Linked DNA regions of Homo sapiens. The protein of the gene in region 1 interacts with the protein of each later gene in a pairwise test. Each region holds a gene or a part of one and is shown in the gene's direction. Other genes may lie near its edges.

Evidence for each region.
Region 2: the proteins of PMP22 (region 1) and PGRMC2 interact in binary tests that used the Homo sapiens proteins (3 or more experiments, as listed by UniProt).
Region 3: the proteins of PMP22 (region 1) and SLC18A1 interact in binary tests that used the Homo sapiens proteins (3 or more experiments, as listed by UniProt).

The regions. Positions count from the first base shown.
Region 1 is NC_000017.11:15,255,175-15,258,826, reverse strand, and holds part of PMP22 (peripheral myelin protein 22), read left to right. Parts: intron 1-3,652. UniProt on the Homo sapiens protein: Might be involved in growth regulation, and in myelinization in the peripheral nervous system.
Region 2 is NC_000004.12:128,277,782-128,281,433, reverse strand, and holds part of PGRMC2 (membrane-associated progesterone receptor component 2), read left to right. Parts: intron 1-3,652. UniProt on the Homo sapiens protein: Required for the maintenance of uterine histoarchitecture and normal female reproductive lifespan. May serve as a universal non-classical progesterone receptor in the uterus.
Region 3 is NC_000008.11:20,145,081-20,148,732, reverse strand, and holds part of SLC18A1 (chromaffin granule amine transporter), read left to right. Parts: intron 1-662; coding exon 663-726; intron 727-1,010; coding exon 1,011-1,130; intron 1,131-1,341; coding exon 1,342-1,475; intron 1,476-2,856; coding exon 2,857-2,970; 3' UTR 2,971-3,652.

The DNA.
Region 1 (3,652 bases):
TGATTGAAAAAAATATCGACCTGGGAGCTGTGAAGGTGGTATGATAGCTAAGCCTTTGGCAGACCCCCTTGGGACATTGGATCAAACGTGTATCTTTGGTTTGGTGGCTGTCTCTATTCAGAAATGTCCTGCCCCTTTCTGCTGCAGTGACAGTGGGGCTAGCTCACTGCACCGTCAGTTACATGGACACAAGACTGGCTGCCTTTCCAGGTCTTGGGCCTCAGTGATGCCACCTAGCATCAAAACCTTTGAATGTTTCCTTGTTGCAAGATGGGGACTTGAAGCTATTTGCAAAACCCTAAGCTAAGCCTTGGGGTCCTTAATCCAGAAGATCGTATTTCTCCTCTGTCCTCAGCATCTTTGCTTGTGAGATATGGAAGCCAGGCTTCATGAGGGTCAAATTAAGGGATAATTGGCAGCAGAAGCACCAACTAGGTACCCAAGGCACCCAGAGGGAAAGGAACACCCAGCCAGGAGCCCTGTGTGTTTGGATGCAGACAGGTGGAGGTAAACAGGATGAGCTGTTTTGGTGGCTGGGTAGGCCATAGCGATTGATGTTAAGAGCCCGTGGACCTGGATCCACATGATCTTTTGTTCCAGAAGATGTGTCCTCAGGCTGGAAGGACCTAGAGATACAGCAGAGCTTTCCTAACATCCTGGGTTTAAAAGGCCACGGAAATACAGCTTTAAATGTTGCTGGAGCTACTCATAGATCCAGTATATATGTTCAAGATGCTACACCAGACGAGAGAAACCAGTTTAGATCCAGTTCAGTAAAACAGGCAGTGAAGTGGCCTTTGGTCCTGGCTTTGCATAATCCAGTTGCTTTGCTGGACTTTCCCTCTTACAGCTCAGTACCCAGTAATACCCAAGCATGTCCCCAGCTGAAGCATTATAAACCAAATTCCTTGAACCACAGTACAAATAGAAACTGCTAAAATAATAATTTGGTAATTTACATGGAGAAGATACGCAAGGAGTAGAAAACCCTGCTTTATGTTTTTACCTTCTGGGTTGGGGAGGGAGCAGAGAAAAGGTCCCAGTCCTATTGGAGTGAGAACAGTGCTTAATCTTGTCTCTGAGTGTGTGAAAGGCATTGAATTAAAGCCATCCCAGAAATTACGTGGTGGGTTTGCATGGTGAGTTGGCAACTGAGTAAATGAAATACTCATGAGTGCCTGAGAATGTGACCGTAGCACTGCTTGTCCCCAAAGCCACAGCATCCGGTTTCTCCCCCTTTAGGGTCTGGCTGAAGTTCCCGGAGCACTCCGGATGGGAGTCTCCGTACTCGCTACTGACACCTGGTGGTTACAAGTAGTGACTCAGCCCGAAAAGGGCAGGCTTTGGTGCTCACAGGCGCCATCCCCAAGTGGCATCTGGCCACGCGGCTTGGCACAGAATCCTGGACTCTTGGGCCCGGAAGGGGGCAGTTTTGGCAGGCGTGTTAAAACCCGGCGAAGTTTCAGCAGAAACGAGGCGGCAGAGGAGTTGCTAAGTTGTGCTTAAACCATCTGCAGGAAAGAAAGCAATATTGACCTGTAGCATGTTACAGATTGACATTTGGTGTCTTCTGCCGTTGGAAATAGCTGTCAGTTGGTGCTAGAAGCAGATCTCAAAGAGGCACTAGGGTTATTTTAATCAGGAAACTTCTTATCTCTCAACTTGTTCCTTCTGTGCCAAGCTCATGTTCTTGAGTTCATTTACAATGCCTCCTTAGTGTGGGTTTCAAATCTGCCTCGTTGCTTTCCGTGAGGACCCCAGAGTGTCTGTTTTCCACATCTCCCTTCTCAGCTCTCACAATCAGGGCATTTTGAAAACATCTGGACACTGCACCTGAACATGCTGGGTTTGTTTTCACGCCACTCAGGCTTAATCTAAATTTGAAATTTCCATTTACACTTCCCCAGTAGTGGTTATCTCTGCCGCTATCTTCCCCAACGTGGCAGCACTTGCTACGACTTCAGCCTTAAGTGGCGAATCCTCCAGGGCCTCTTTGATTGAGTTTAACAATTGTGGCTGCAGACAATAAGCTGAAAAAAATGTGTACTTTTTAAAACATTATACTGTCTTTACAAATGAACTATGCTCATTGCGAACCATTTAACTTGTCTGTATTTGCTCTTAGAAAGTATATTTGAAAAAAAATACTTGTTAAGTAATCAAAAGTAATTTGTTATTGACATCGATTTGTGAAGAATATGTTGCAAGTGTGAAAAAATAAATAGTGGTGCAATCTCGGCTGACTACAACCTCCACCTCCTGGGTTCAAGCGATTTTCCTGCCTCAGCCTCCCGAGTAGCTGGGATTATAGGCGCCCAACACCACGCCTGGCTAATTTTTGTATTTTTAGTAGAGAGGGGTTTCATCATGTTGGGCAGGCTGGTCTCGAACTCCTGACCTCAGGAGATCCACCCACCTCACCTCCCAAAGTGCTGGGATTAGAGGTGTGAGCCACTGCGCCATGTGACTTGGTATTTTTTTCTGAAAGGACTCATTTTTCTGGTGCATGACCATGACACTTCACCTCTCTCTGGGGGTTGCCACTCATGTTGTTTTCTACATGAATGGGGCCTCCTGGCATCGTGCCATGAGGCAGTCTAACATCTAGGTTGTGTAGTTTGAAAGAGACACACCAGATCTTGCCCCCAGGCTACATCTTAATATTAGAAATAGTTTTAGATTTTTAACTAACTGACTTTGACTCCGCCTGCCTTCTCGTTTTTCTAAATGTGTTTGTATACTTTCTGGCACCCCCTCCTTATCTGCCTCGTGTGGGCAGAGGTAAGAGAGGCTTAGTGTGGGGATATTCGTTATGATATTGTATCCAGTGCCTCTCCGGCCCAGGGAATACAAGGATCTGGAATGCATGGGCCTTGCCTTGATGGTCCCGAGCCTGGTCGAAGAGTCAGGAGATAGATATGGAAGGGTGAATCACTCCCTTGGAAGGCAGAGCAGGCCAGGTGCCCAAAGGGAGGCAGGCAGACAGCGTCTGAGTTCAGGGAGGAAGCGGATGGGAAATCTCTGGTGGGAGGTAGAATCTGATCCATCCTCCAAAGGATGGGCAGGATTTAAGTCAATACAGGCAACGGGGAGGAGAATATTCCCTGTGACCTAAGGTAAGGGTAGAACAAGGCAGGGGATGGGGTAGACTGGTTGGCTAGTGTTCTGGTTAGGATTAGGATTGATTGTGTATAAGAGAACATCTTCAAATGATAGGGGCTTAAGTAAGATCATTTATTTTTCTCTCTTTTCAAAGAAGTCTGGAAGTAGGTAGCCTGAGAGAGGTATGGAGGTTCCATGAAATTGTCAGAGATGCAGACACTTTCTAGCTCATTTCTTTGCCATCTCTTGGGTTTGGCTGTCATCTTCAGGAAACAAAAGGCTGCTAGAGCTCCAGCCATCTCATCCATGATTCAAGCAGTAGGGTGGAGAAAGGAGGTGGGGAAGAATGAATCTCCTTTTCTTTTAATGAAATGTGACATGGTCACACCTACACCTATTTACAAGAGAGGCTGAGAAATATAGTCATTCGGCCTTGGGGGAAGCATGGCTTTTCAAATCATAGAAACCTGGCAGCAAATACCTCTCTGTAAGCCTGGTGTGGAATACTTTCCTTGAGGGTTTGACCATCCCCTCCCATACCCAATCATAC
Region 2 (3,652 bases), on another chromosome or scaffold:
TCCTTAAGTTTTTGCTATAGATGACTATCCTATGCTTCTGAACAATATAAGAATTTTAGCCAAACATCATTTTAGTGTCAATTTGAAAAAGCTGCCTCTTTAAGATACTTTACTGACATTTGACAGATTATTTCTTAATAAATAAGCAAAACTGCCATGACTACAAATATGGATAGTATCCCCTGCGTTGTACATAGTCATATGTTGAGGCCCTGGTTAGAAAGCTTTAACTCTGATTCCTCCCCCATCCTGTTTTCCACAGTATCACTATTAGACTTTAGCTTCACTTTGTTTTTTCAAACTCCACCCCAAAATTGATGAAATTATTATCTTTTTAATATAGTCCTTGTTTAAATTTACTAACATGGTTATCATTTTTTTAATTCACTGTTGTTTCTTGCATCTCATTTCTTTGGGGTTCACTTTTTATTTTAGTGAGGTGTGTCCTATAGTTTTTCACTGGCAGGAAAAAATTTTTTATTTTTCCTCACTCAGGAATAATAGTTTGGGTTTAGAATATAAAATTGTAGATTGGGCCAGGCGCAGTGGCTCATGCCTATAATCCTACCATTTTTGGGAGACCAAGGTGGGAGGACTGCTTGAGCCCAGCAGTTCAAGACTAGCCTGGGCAATATGGCGAGACTCTGTCTCTTACAAAAATATAAAAAATTAGCTAGGCATAGTGACATGCACCTGTGGCCCCAGCTACTCAAGAGTCTGAGGTATTAAGATCGCTTGAGCCCAGAAGATCAATGAGCCTTGATAACACCACTGCACTCAACCTGGGTGACAGAGCAAGACCCTGTCTCAAAAAAAAATGTAAATTGACCTTATTATACCTCAACTCTTGAGTAGCGTTATGCCACTGTCTTCCACTTGTTGGTGAGGAGTCGGCTTGTAGTTTCTCTTTACTTTTATTAATCTTTTTCTTCCTTTTGGTTGTAGTTGAGATCTTTTTGTCTTTGGGGTTTTGCTATTTTACTAGGATTTGTCCAGGTATGGATTTGATTTTATTTACCATGTACCAAACTCTACTCAAGTCTGTGGATATATTGTCCTTTTTTTTTTTTTTTTTTTTTTCCCAGAAAATTTGCTGTTACTTATTGCCTCTTCCATTATCTCTGTTCCTTCCTCTGGAACTGTTAATAGATATACATTAGGTTTTCATTCTATTCTTAATGTCTCTTAATCTTTCCTTTTGTACCATTTCTTAATAATTTTAAGCAAATTTACTTTAGTTCTTTAATCTGCTTCTGTATCTGTTATATGTGCCCACTCCTCCATGATGGTTTGTTTCTTCATGTAGTTTATATTTTTTATTGTGAACTTATTATCTTCAGTAGTTACTTTTTTTAATTTTGGAGTATTTCCTGTAAAATTCCATGAGCCCTAAGTTGTGAAAGAGGTAAAGTGCTTTGGGTATGTTGCAAAATAGGGCCTCACGTAAGTTAAAACAATGATTTTTTAAATTAAGTAATACATGCTCAAAATAGAAAATTCAAAAGGATATACAGTGAAAAATAAGTCTACTTCCCACAACTAGTCCCAGCCACCATGTTCCCTTCCATAGCAGCAAAGCACCAGTCTACGTATTGTTCTAGAGCTATTTTGGGTGCAAGTACAAGCATGTGGATATCTTCCTTTCCCCCCACACTAATTATAGTATACTATGCATACCCTTCACAATATTTTAATATCACAAGAGCCTTTGACATCAGTATAGAGAGCCATCTTATTCTTTTGAATACATGCATAATATTCTATTTTATGAATAAGTCATAATTTAACAGTCCACTGTTAACATTTGTTTTCAGTCTCCTGTTATTGCATGATGCTGCAATAAATATGTACATGTCATTTTACACATGTGTGTAAAATTATGATTATAAAGTAAATTCCTGGAAATAAAATTACCGAGGCTTGGGGTATGGATATTTTTAATTTGGATTCTTGTTTCTAAACTGCCCTTCAGAGAGGTTGGACCAATTTACACTTGATGAAAATGCCTGTTTCTCACTTCTTGCCAAAAACGTGGTATTAAGCTTCTTGGTCTTTGTCACTCTTGAGAGGTTAAAATGGTATCTCAATATTTGTTTAAATTTACATTTCTCATTTACTTAATGAGGTTGGACTTCTTTTTAAAAAGTTGAGTCATTTATGATGCCTTTTCTACAAATTGTTTATTCATATATCCTTTGCCACAGTTTTTCTCTTTTTTTTTTTTTGAGACAGAGTTTCACTCTTGTTGCCCAGGCTGGAGTGCAATGATGCAATCTCGGCTCACTGCAACCTCTGCCTGCTGGGTTCAAGCGATTCTCCTGCCTCAGCCTCCCGAGTAGCTGGGATTGCAGGCATGCGCCACGACACCCAGCTAATTTTGTATTTTTAGTAGAGACGGGGTTTCTCCATGTTGGTCAGTCTGGTCTCGAACTCCTGACCTCGGGCAATCCGCCCACCTCAGCCTCCCAAAGTGCTGAGATTACAGGCATGAGCCACTGCGCCCAGCCCTGCTGCAGTTTTTCAATCATCATATTGATCGTACAGATTTTAGGTGTTCTTTATAAAGTAAATCAGCCTTTGCCGCAAATATTTTTTCTAGTTTGTCCTTTTACTTATTTATGGTGTTTTTTTGAACCACACAAAGTTTTGGTTTTATGTATTCAAATTTATCTTTTCTTTTATAGCTGCTAAGTTATGTATTATATTTAAAGACTTTATGCACTTAAAATTGTTTTTAAAAATCTGTAGTTTTTTTAGTACTTCTGTGGTCTCAGTTTTTTAGTTCCATTTGAAATTGATTTTGCTTTAAGATGTGAAATTAGAGTCCAAATTTGGTGGGGTGGTGGGTGTTTGTTTGTTTTTGAGAAGGAATCTTGCTCTGTCACCCAGGCTAGAGTGCAGTGGCGCCATCTCGGCTCACTGCAACCTGCGTATCCCGGGTTCAAGCGATTCTCCTGCCTCAGCCTCTTGAGTAACCGGGATTACAGGCGCCCACCACCGTGCCCGGCTAATTTTTATATTTTTAGTATAAGAGACAGGGTTTCACCATCTTGGCCAGGTTGGTCTCAAACTCCTGACCTCGTGATCTACCCGCCTTGGCCTCCCAAGGGGTTGTGTTTTTTAACAGAAGGTTATCTAGTTGTCCCAACATGTTTCCCCAACAGGGGAATAATCCCTTTTTCCTAATACTTGAAGTATTATCTTTAGTGTTCATTAATTCTTATAGATATTTGAGTTCATACTATTTTTTCACCTTGGAATTTTCATTCTGCATGGGTTGCATAAACTCAGGCCCCACTCCCATAAGTGGCACGGGCCTGGGCTTTTAATTTTTCTGTCTTTTCTTTACCCCAGCCTACCCATGCACCCTGGAGTTAAGGCCATATGCTCAGTTCACAATGTTGCTGAGCGCTTTTGACAGTAGCTCAAATTTCAGAAGCAAGATTGCACTTTCAGTCACTTATAGAATCATACTATTCAAGAGATTATTTAGTTTGGTCTCAACTTCAGGCAGGTAAAATAATTTTCCTAATTTATATTTGAGGGATCTAAGGACTATGGAAATCGAGACTTGTTGATTGTGAGTGGATCCTCTAGAACCCAAGTATCTGTCTTCTTGAGAGGTATTATTTCAGTTTTACCATACTGCATT
Region 3 (3,652 bases), on another chromosome or scaffold:
TGTCCTGGGGTAGCAGGTTTGAATGGCAGGTACCCAGAGAGGGAGGTAAGGAACCTGAAAAAGAGGGAAGAAGGGGTTTTTGTTGGGGGATTGGGAGGGCAATGGGAATGAGTCTCACAAGCTTCCTGACAGGGGACCCAAGCCACACCACCTGCCCCCTCTAGCTTACAGCTAACTGGTTGTTGGGGCCTCTTCTCTATCTTCTTTTTCCAACAGCTACCAAGTTAGAAGTCTAAATGAAACCTTTCAGTGATGTCCATAATGGAAAACAGAGGCAACTTTATTCCATGAAGAATGAGACCAGGAGTGTATGTTTAGGTGAAGAGGGGTAGAGGAAGGGGAGAAAGTATCCATGGAACAGAGGAAGACCCTCGTTAGAGCATAATGGAGCCAAGTCTGAGGTCCAAACTTGATCTTGCCACTCATTAGATCTGTAACTCTGGATAGAGCAATAAATAAACACAACAGCGCTGGTCAAGTTTTCATATCCTTAAAATGGAGGTATAGATTCTTTTCCATGAGAAAGTCTGAGAGTGCAGGAGGATGATGTATGTGGCCAATAGTGCACTCTGAATAAATGCATTTCATGTGAAAACTCTTTGAACCTTGCTCCCACCTGACCCATCTGGAGTCCTGATGACTCTTCCTCCTTCCCCATGCAGGTTCCTCTGGCTCACAATATTTTTGGTCTCATTGGCCCCAATGCAGGGCTTGGCCTTGCCATAGGTAAGAAGTGCCCTCAAAGAAAACAATAAGCCCCTGCATGTTGGCTTTGGGTCTGATGCCTTTCCTCCCCCTTTTCTCATCAGAGGAGGTAGGTGCAGAGGCAGAAGGATCAGGAGGGCAGCTGGCAGGGTTGTGGAGAGATGAGCTCGTAATTCCCACCTGGAACAGGTGTTAGTCCGAGGCAGAAGACAGCAGACAAAGCAAATGGACTAAATGGAGGAGGAGAGGCGGGGTGGTACTAACTGTGGGTGGGGCTGACTGTGTCCTGTTTGCTCTGGCCACAGGCATGGTGGATTCTTCTATGATGCCCATCATGGGGCACCTGGTGGATCTACGCCACACCTCGGTGTATGGGAGTGTCTACGCCATCGCTGATGTGGCTTTTTGCATGGGCTTTGCTATAGGTATGTTGGCAGGACCTGGTGCCCCACTTTCCCCTGTCTACTCTTTACCAGCTGGAAGTGCAGCCAGGAAGCTATCCTCCTAGGGTTCTGGAGATCTTTGACGCTGAGACATCCTCTGGGTCACCCACTGCCCCTAGCATAGTGTCCTACGTGGAGGATGCTCCATATGGAGGCTCCATAGACACTTATGACTTTGATGTATCCCTCCCAGGTCCATCCACCGGTGGTGCCATTGTAAAGGCCATCGGTTTTCCCTGGCTCATGGTCATCACTGGGGTCATCAACATCGTCTATGCTCCACTCTGCTACTACCTGCGGAGCCCCCCGGCAAAGGAAGAGAAGCTTGTAAGGAGCACCGACTGTTAAAAGAGAAATTCACTTCTGTTTCTTTCCATCATCTCTCTCATTCCCTTTCATCCTGGGCTGTTATTTCCTCCCTCTATTGCTCTGTTGATACTCTCTCTGCTTTGCCATGTTTCCCAATCCCCTTTCATCTTCATATTTCTTTTGTGCACTTCCTTAATTTCCCTTCTCTAAGTAACCACTTCCCTCTTTCTGGGGCTATCAGGAAGGGTCTTCAGTAGAGAAGGGAAATGGGGGCAGAGGACCATCAAAGACATCCTGTAGTTACTGTTCTTAGCTTGCTAGTTACTAGCAAGATGTGAGTTACCAAGTTAACTCCCTCATAAGTGGGCAGAATTCCATTGGCACATCCGTTCATCCACTCATTCACTCTAGTGCAACATTATCCTTACCAGGTCACTTTTTTTTTTTTTTTTTGATGGAGTTTCACTCTTGTTGCCCAGGGTGGAGTGTAATAGTGTGATCTCGGCTCACCACAACCTCTGCCTCCCGGGTTCAAGAGATTCTCCTGCCTTGGCATCCCAAGTAGCTGGGATTACAGGCATGTACCACCATGTCTGGCTAATTTTTTGTATTTTTAGTAGAGATGGGGTTTATCCATGTTGGTCAGCAGGTCACGTTTTTAAAAGTACAAAAACCCCAGGGAAGAGATCCATACCATAGGATTTTCTTTAATAAAGCACTTTCCTCTTACTGCAGCACAAACATCCTGAGGGCCTGATGGGTTTGGGATACCGACAGAGGCTGCTCAAGGGAACAAAAGAAGACATGAAGGTGTGATAGGGAGTGGTGGTGATTCCATTTGGCTTCCTGCTGTAACTTTCACTACCACTGTTAAATTCAGTTAAAAGCAAATGAGATACTTGTCCTGACAAGGGTTGATATACTAGGTACCCCGGGAGGCTGGTGCATGTACATGCAGAGGGTCCTATGCATGTTTCTTGAGTACTTAGCAATGCCAGCCTTGGAAGAACTAGTGGGAGGACGGAATGAGGAGATTGGTAAAAAAAAGATGTGCGGTGGTTGGCCGGGCGCGGTGGCTCACGCCTGTAATCCCAGCACTTTAGGAGGCTGAGGCGGGCGCATCACGAGGTCAGGAGATCGAGACCATTCTGGCTAACATGGTGAAACCCCGTCTCTGCTAAAAATACAAAAAATTAGCCTGGCGTGGTGATGGGCGCCTGTAGTTCCAGCTACTCTGGAGGCTGAGGCAGGAGAACGGCATGAACCCGGGAGGCGGAGCTTGCAGTGAGCCGAGATTGCGCCACTGCACTCCAGCCTGGGCAACAGAGCGAGACTCCGTCTCAAAAAAAAAAAAATGATAATAATGTGCAGTGGCTTCTCTTCTTGCCTCTCTCTGCAGGCTATTCTGAGTCAGGACTGCCCCATGGAGACCCGGATGTATGCAACCCAGAAGCCCACGAAGGAATTTCCTCTGGGGGAGGACAGTGATGAGGAGCCTGACCATGAGGAGTAGCAGCAGAAGGTGCTCCTTGAATTCATGATGCCTCAGTGACCACCTCTTTCCCTGGGACCAGATCACCATGGCTGAGCCCACGGCTCAGTGGGCTTCACATACCTCTGCCTGGGAATCTTCTTTCCTCCCCTCCCATGGACACTGTCCCTGATACTCTTCTCACCTGTGTAACTTGTAGCTCTTCCTCTATGCCTTGGTGCCGCAGTGGCCCATCTTTTATGGGAAGACAGAGTGATGCACCTTCCCGCTGCTGTGAGGTTGATTAAACTTGAGCTGTGACGGGTTCTGCAAGGGGTGACTCATTGCATAGAGGTGGTAGTGAGTAATGTGCCCCTGAAACCAGTGGGGTGACTGACAAGCCTCTTTAATCTGTTGCCTGATTTTCTCTGGCATAGTCCCAACAGATCGGAAGAGTGTTACCCTCTTTTCCTCAACGTGTTCTTTCCCGGGTTTTCCCAGCCGAGTTGAGAAAATGTTCTCAGCATTGTCTTGCTGCCAAATGCCAGCTTGAAGAGTTTTGTTTTGTTTTTTTTCATTTATTTTTTTTTTTAATAAAGTGAGTGATTTTTCTGTGGCTAAATCTAGAGCTGCTAAAAGGGCTTTACCCTCAGTGAAAAGTGTCTTCTATTTTCATTATCTTTCAGAAACAGGAGCCCATTTCTCTTCTGCTGGAGTTATTGAC